Homo sapiens: one gene and its partner. The protein of the gene in region 1 purifies or fractionates together with the protein of each later gene. This does not show direct contact. Each region holds a gene or a part of one and is shown on either strand. Other genes may lie near its edges.

Region 1 (4,231 bases):
ATTTGCAGAGCCAGGGCAAGCACTGGAGGAAGTAGAGGGGCTTCCAGGATAAGGGGTCTGATCCCTCTGTGACCTTGGATCTGTGGGCAGCCCTGTGCAGCCACCTGTGGGATTGGCCCTCTACTCAGAAACGTGTAGCACAGCCAGAGGCCTTACTTGGATGACAGGGCTCACGGCAATGAGCTCACGCATTGTGTTTCTGTCTAGGAGTGTGTTCCCCAGGCTCTCTGTCTGAGAGAAGAACTGGTCAGAGGTGCACTTGTGGAGGCATCTGCCTCTCTCGCACACTCAGGCACTGGATAAGGCGGACATCTTTATTCAAGCCAGCAAATGACACGCCAGGAGCCCAGGTGAGCCGGAGTGCTCTGCCCAGCCTGGCTGCAGTTGTTGGCCAGAGCTCAGAGCTCTCCTGGGCCTGGCAGATGGCTCTGCCTGCACTTCTTTTTGGGACTCAGAGACTAAATTAGAAAGGGGTGGGGGTAGCCCCAGGAGAACCCACTTTCATTGTCAATCTTGAGGTCAAAGAAAACCAGAGGTCTGTCTTCTGCTTGGGGGTCAGCAAGGTTCTCGTCCAGGACCCTGAGGGTGCTGGGGCCTTCCAGCTGGAGGTCACTGGACTCACTGCTGCTGTCATCCAGCTCTCGGGAGGACTGCAACACAGAAAAACCAAGCGTCAGGGATTCAGAGGGCCAAGGCAAGCACCTGTGCAGAACACTAGCAAGCTGGTATAGCTGGGAGCATCTGCGTGCACATGAAGGAGGGTGTACCACTGGGAAAGGGGACGTGTGCACAAGAGAAGGTATGTGTGCATGAATGGGTGTGAACTGGGTGTGTCACATGTGAGGGTTACATGTATGAACCAGGGCATACACCCTCATGAGTAGGGGAGGAAGGGTGACACACACAGGTTGTGAACGTGCATGTGTGGGAATGAATCCAAGTGCTAAATCTGTGTGTGCATGCACAGTTAAGTGTGAGCTGTGAACCTGCGTTGACACAAGTGTATGAAAGTGTGAGAGAAAATGCCAGTGGGTGTGTGCATGAGTGTGCTGTGCTGCTTATGGAGGCTCAGGGAAGGAGCCATCTGCTATGGCAGGCAGGACCTGAGATGTCTGCTCCTAATTTCATCTTTCTGAGCAGACTCAGAAGAAACACCAAAACTTGGGACGGGAGAAAGAAGCCTCATCTTGAACCCCAGATGATTCTTTGGAAGGGGTCGGGAGCCTGCCTTTTCTTGTCCCCGAAGTCAGCCGAGGTGCCAGTGTCCTACACAAAGGCGAGGGGAAGGACTGCTTGGCCTCCTGAAGGCCACATCTAGGTGGACACCCAGGTCCTTGGCAGTGAGAGAGCAGTGGAGGCTCTTGGCATCTGCCCCAGCAGCTTAGAGAAACCTGAGTTTTGGGAGTCCTTCAGGTGAGGCGTTCTCTCCTGTCCCAAGGTCCTGGTGGGAACACTGTTCGAGAAGCCATGGGGTGGGGAGCCAGAGGATGAGGGAAGGGCTCCAGCTCTGAGATTTTCCCAAGGGACTGGGACTACAGAGGGAGGTGGAGCCTCTGATGGTAATACAGAGTTAATTGCTTATCATCTGCTCAGCTGCCAAGCCCAGATGTTTAGTCTTTGATGACCAACTTGGAACCTCCCATGAATGCCACCTGTGGACGTTAGCCAGAGACCAGCAAGGAAGAGACATGGACAGGATCACAGGGCCAATTGGGAGCATGGCTGGGACAGAGTCCAGGGCAGGCCTTGGGTTTTTCCTCTTTATGGACTGCCGCTGGCTTCTCAATGAAGTTGGTGTCACCTGGTGCTAAAGCCTCAGTTAATTCTGGCCTCTGGCTAATGTCCCTGGCCTAGGAGGCAGCACATTTCCCCAGACCCTTCCAATGCCCAAGTGAAACATCTGCTTCCAACCAAGCTTCAACTGAGAGAAAAAGCGTTTCCACCCACAAGTAACCTAAGATGTGGTGGGTTTTTGTAGGAGTGGCTGGATTTCACTGGATTTGCATTTCACAGCCCTGCTCCAGGCTCATCAGCTTTCTGCCAGTTATTGTCAGAAGCAGACACTCACTATGAATCCATCTAGAGCTGGCTTTGCCTCTTCATATCCAGGGATCTAGTCAGAGAGTCTGCCCAGCGCCTCGCATCTCCAGATCCTCATTCAGCCACGCTGTCAAAAGCTGATTTCACACGTCTTGCTCCGGGTGAGCCCACACTGCTGTCTCGCCTTTCCAACTCGGTTTCCTCCCTGTAAGGAGCCTTCTACAAGGCGTCTTCCTAGCTTGTAGCTGGGTGGCTGGAGACTCCACCTTCTCCCGCTTTGGGAGAATCCAGTTGTTTCCTCTCTCCAGGCTTCACTGGGCAGCAGCGCTCTCCCACAAGCTGGTGGAGGGGCTGGGCTCCCCTTCTGGGTCCTCCCTGGTTCAGATCCTTGGTGCCAATAGCTGAGGCTGAGTCCATGCTGCCACCCACTGACATGGCACACAGGACTTTCTCTTTTTCGTTCTTCTTCCTGCTCCAAACCCAACTGGAAATGCCCCTTTGTGTTCCTGAGTGCCTCCACAAAGCTCGGGGCAATGTCCTCGGCCTTAGAACCAGTCTTCCCGCCTTCAGATCTGCTCTTCCAAGAGGAGAGCTCCCTGGAGAGCCACAGTACTGTCTCTTTAGGCCACCCCTCCCATCGTTACAGCAGGGTCATTTATGGCAGCCACTAGAACCTCGTTTTTAGAGCCTTCCATTGTCCCGGGGCCAGGGAAATGTCCTTTGTCCTAAACTTACTCGAGCTGCCTTCTCTAAGAAACCTCTACTGTCTCCTTTAATAAAAGGACACCCCCTTTCCACCAAGCTTGTTAATGGAGGAGAGGCTGGACCTTTCAGCCCTGACTCACTTCCTCCAAAATTCCTCTTGCCCTTGGGGACTTCCATAAAGTATGGCCACCCATGGAGCTGGTCTCACTGGAACTCCAGCCAGCTGTAAACCCAGAATTCTCCCCTGCTCCGCCTTAAACTCCAGCATCACAGCTGGGGAGTGCTGACGCATTTAAACAAGACTTTCTGAAAGACTCAGGTTTGCCAGCAGGGCCATCAGACATAGTGGCCTGGTGCAGAACATACTCCCCTCCCTGCTCACTAGGGGAGACTCTCCCATTCTGCCCCCAGGCCCCACACCTTGGCCTTATTCCGCAAATTAGGATAACTGGGTGTCGGGGGAGCATAGAGAGGGACAGTCACTGGAAAAGACTTAGATTTGCTTGGAAGAGAAAAGGAAGGGGGACAGAAGAAAGAAGATGGGAAACAGAGCCTTGAGCCTGCGTGTGAGGACCGGGAATCAAGGGGGAAAGCTTTGCTATGCAGTGAGAGATGCCAGGCGCCAAAGAAAAGGGGAAGAAGGACTGAAGAAGTGCTGCTGGGGTTATGAGCTGGATTCCCTTTAATGTTCTTTCAAAAGATGCAAGTAAATACTGGGATTTATTTCTTTATTATACTTGGTTAATGGACATTGTTTCTTTGAATGCAAAACTGTGTTCAGGCTGAGCCTCGTGAGAGCCAGGATTTTTTCAGGATATACATGCAACTTGGATACACCTGCAATCTGGCTCATGAGCTACATCCATCTCACTCCCCTTCCTCATAGATTTCACGGCCTGAGCAGGTCAAGTGCATTCTAACTCAACACAGCAGGTCTAACAGTCGTCCCAAGCATGCTCAGAGGAAGTGGCTGGATTGGCATTGTAATCACACTCCAAAAGTCCAGGAGGTACATCAGGGAAGATCCAGCCTCTCCCCTCCTCTGCGGTATTACACCCTGGTATGAAAATGTCACCTGCATTCAAGACTGCCACATCTATAAACAAATGAGCAGCATTCCTCTACCACAGACATGCAATGAATCCCCCGATTCAGTGGTTCTTGACTTTGGTTAGGCATTCATAGCTTTAAGAAAAAACTGAGGCCCAGGCTGCACCCAAGACTGATTCGATTAGAATCTCAGGGCGTAGGACCTAGGAATCTGTAGTTGGGAAAACTCCCCAGTGTACAGCCAGCTTGAGAACAATTGTCCTTATCACTGATTCATTCCAGGTTTGCTCATCAGCCAAACACAAGCCAAACTCTGATAGTCAGCATCCAGCCTCTGGAAGATACAGAACATCTGACATTCATGCTTATCAAGAGCCCTCAAGCTCCTGAAGAACTTTCTGAGCACTTAAGCATCAGCTACAGCTGGGATCAGTTT
Region 2 (3,865 bases), on another chromosome or scaffold:
TTTTCTTTAAAAAAAAAATTTTTTTTTTTGAGATAGAGTCTCACTCTGTCACCCAGGCTGGAGTGCAGTGGTGTGATCTCGGCTCACTGCAGCCCCAGCCTCACGGGTTCAAACGATTCTCATGCCTCAGCCCTCTTGAGTAGCTGGGATTACAGGCACACACCACCACATTGGGCTAATTTTTTTGTATTTTTAGTAGAGATGCAGTTTTGCCATGTTGGCCAGGCTGGACACAAACTCCTGGCCTCAAGTCATCTGTCCACCTTGGCCTCCCAAAGTGCTGGGATCACAGGCATGAGCCACCACACCTGGCCCCCAAATGCTTTAACAATAATTTTCTTTGGGGCCGGGCGCGGTGGCTCATGCCTGTAATCCCAGCACTTTGGGAGGCTGAGGCGGGTGGATCACAAGGTCAGGAGATCAAGACCATCCTGGCTAAACACGGTGAAACCCTGTCTCTACTAAAAATACAAAAAATTAGCTGAGTGTGGTGGCAGGCACCTGTAGTCCCAGCTACTTGGGAGGCTGAGACAGAAGAATGGCATGAACCCAGGAGGCAGAGCTTGCTGTGAGCCAAGATTGCACCACTGCACTCCAGCCTGGGCGACAGAGCGAGACTCCATCTCAAAAAAATAATAATAATTTTCTTTGGGAAGGGAGTTGAATTAGGGTTGAGGTGGGCTTTAATTTTTATTACTTCACTACTGTTTCATTTTAGTTTTAAAAACTTTTGTGACTTTACAAAATGGGATTTAAAATGATATATACTATCTTCATGTACAGTAGAAAATCAGTTTTTAATAAAATTTTGGTTTACCATTTTCCATCTTTGTGCAGGACATCATGGTGATGTTGGGGCTCCCATAGCTGATGTTATTCTCCCAGGAGCTGCTTACACAGAGAAGTCTGCTACATATGTCAACACTGAGGGTAGAGCTCAGCAGACTAAGGTAGCAGTGACACCTCCTGGCTTGGCAAGAGAAGACTGGAAAATTATAAGAGCACTCTCTGAGGTATAATTTCTGAGTCATTTCTTAGTGATGCTACTAAAGGCATATTTGATATTTTAGCCTGTTAGAATGATTTTCAAAGTCAAGGAAGATGCCAGTCTGAAATGCAGAGATGATTTGAATAATTTCTATAGAAAACATGTATTCAGAAACAGGAATTCAAGGTTACAGTGAGCTCTCATTGCACCGCTGCACTCCAGCCTGAGGGACAGAGCAAGACCCTGTCTCTTAAAAAATAAAGGAACTTGAAATTGGTGCTTTTATTTTATTTTATTTATTTTTGAGACAGAGTTTTTCTCTGTTGCCCAGGCTGGAGTGCAGTGGCGTGATCTCAGCTTACTGCAACCTCCACCTCCCGGGCGCAAGCTTCCTGAGTAACTGGGATTACACGCATGTACCACCAAGCCTGGCTAATTTTTATATTTTTAGTAGAGATGGGGTTTCGCCATGTTGGCCAGGCTGGTCTTGAACTCCTGGGCCTCAAGCAGTCCTCCCACCTCGGTCTCCCGAAGTGCTGGGATTACAGGTGTGAGCCACTGCACCTGGCCTGAAATTGGTGCTTTTATTGTTGAAAATTGTTGACTTGTCTTTTGCCTGAAAATACATCTGTTAGCTCTTTATTGATGTAAAAGTAAGCATCCTGACTTTTAAAATAATAACACATTGTAAACTTTATGTATTTTAATAACAGGTTAGCAAAAACATTTGGATTTAGCATAGTATTGTCTCTTCATTTCATAGAGTCACTAATGTACTGACAGCTGTGAATGAATTAGAATTTTTGATATTTGTGTTCCCTGCTTAACTGCTTCCTTCATAAATGTATGTCTACTAATGGACACCAATAGGTTTTTCAGTAGTGCTGCATTATTTCACCATAGTTACAATTATCTATTATTTGATATTTTTAAGTATTAAAGCTTTTTGTTGTTTTTGGGGACCTGACATGTTGTAGATTGCTGGAATGACTCTTCCATATGATACTCTGGATCAAGTAAGGAACAGATTGGAAGAAGTCTCTCCTAATCTTGTTCGATATGATGATATTGAAGGGGCTAATTACTTCCAGCAAGCAAATGAGCTCTCAAAGGTAACAGCTCGCCTATGAGCAGTTTTCATAATGTTGTATCTACTGGTGTAACAGTACTAGTTTTCCATATTATTGTTGATCTCTTCTTTTTTGTGCAGCTAGTGAACCAGCAGCTTCTTGCTGACCCACTTGTTCCACCTCAGCTAACTATAAAAGACTTCTACATGACAGGTATGTAATTGTCAACATGACTCTGCCAAATACGAAAGGTAAGAAGTAATCAGATCACCTCATTTGGTGTTATAATTCCAATTTGTGATTGATAGTGTTTGCAATTCTTAATCTTTGAAGGTTTTCAAACATTGGAACTAACGTAAGCATATTTTCTGATTCTACTCTAGTTTTTTTGTTTCTGAAATGTAAGCAAAGTTTGAAAATCCAAGCAATTAATAGATTTTAAATATAAAATTTTGCTGTTGTAAGGAAAGTCACTGTGTAGCAATTTATGGTGAATTTTCCAAAGTGGCAAATAACTGCAGGTTTTTCTGAGAATTATAGGTGGAAGAATCAAAACATTTAAATGTGAAACATGTTAAACAGTGCTTCTGATGTAAATTGTTAGGAATGTTTTTAAGGAATGCAGACAAACTGAAACTTGTTTATTGCAGATTCTTAGAACAGTTGATACAACATCTAGGTTATGAGGTAGTTAATAGTTGATAGATTATTTTGACTAATTTTCTATCTAAAAGCACATAGAACTCTTAATTTTTTTATATAGTTTGTATCTAAGATTTTTTAAATAAGTATTTTAGTTAGATAATAAAGATTACCTTCATTGTAAAATAATACCTATGCTCAAAAGCACAACAAAAAATCACTTCTATGGTATTTATCTGCGAACTTATGAACACAAAGAAGGAAACAACAGACACTGTAGTCTACTTGAGAGTGGAGAGTGGGAGGAGGGAGAGGTGCAGAAAAGATAAGTCTTGGGTACTGGGCTTAATTCCTCGGTGATGAAGTATTCTGTACAACAAATCCCTGTGACATGAGTTTACTGGTGTAAAAAGCCTTCACATGTACCCCTGAACCTAAAAGTTTTTTTTTTTTTAAAAAAAGAAAAATCACTACCCTCCCACTATCAAGAAATAACTATAATTATTTTTAACATTTTAGTCACTCTTCCTCCAGGGACATACATATGCATTATACACATATATATTATATTAATTAACTATTGTTATTTATATGTAATTATTACTGTTTACATGTACGTGTGTGTGTGTGTGTGTGTGTATAATTTTTGAGATGAGATTTTACTCTGTCACCCAGGCTGAAGTGCAGTGGCACAATCTTGGCTTGCTGCAACCTCTGCCTCCTGAGCTGAAGTGATCCTCCCACCTCAGCCTCCTCGGTAGCTAGGACTATAGGCGCATACCACCACATCCAGCTAATTTTTGTATTTTTTGTAGAGATGGGGTTTCGCCATGTTACCCAGGCAGATCTCAAACTCCTGGACTCAAGCAGTCCACCCACCTCAGCCTCCCAAAGTGCTGGGACTACAGATGTGAGCCACCACCCCTGGCCTATATATTTTTTAGTGAAACAGAAGGTGAGATTAGGCCTGGTGCAGTGGCTCATGCCTGTAATTCCAGCATTTTGGGAGGCTGAGGGGGGCAGATGGCTTGAATCCAGGAGTTTCAGACCAGCCTGGGCAACATAGTCAGATCTGGTCTCTTTAAAAAAAAAAAAGTGAGATTATTCACTTGGGGGTTGATAGCTTTATTGAAATATAATTCATGTACCCTAAAATTTACTCATG

What was found. Proteins that work in one complex are often made in the same cells at the same time.
Region 2: the proteins of PML (region 1) and NDUFS1 purify together in Homo sapiens (affinity purification with mass spectrometry; 4 studies listed by BioGRID and IntAct, with this or other methods). This does not show direct contact.

What each region holds. Positions count from the first base shown.
Region 1 is NC_000015.10:74,039,408-74,043,638, reverse strand, and holds part of PML (protein PML), read right to left. Parts: intron 651-4,231; coding exon 500-650; coding exon of another isoform or gene 459-499; exon of another isoform or gene 301-458; intron 1-300.
Region 2 is NC_000002.12:206,124,945-206,128,809, reverse strand, and holds part of NDUFS1 (NADH-ubiquinone oxidoreductase 75 kDa subunit, mitochondrial isoform 1 precursor), read left to right. Parts: intron 1-837; coding exon 838-1,013; intron 1,014-1,965; coding exon 1,966-2,100; intron 2,101-2,198; coding exon 2,199-2,271; intron 2,272-3,865.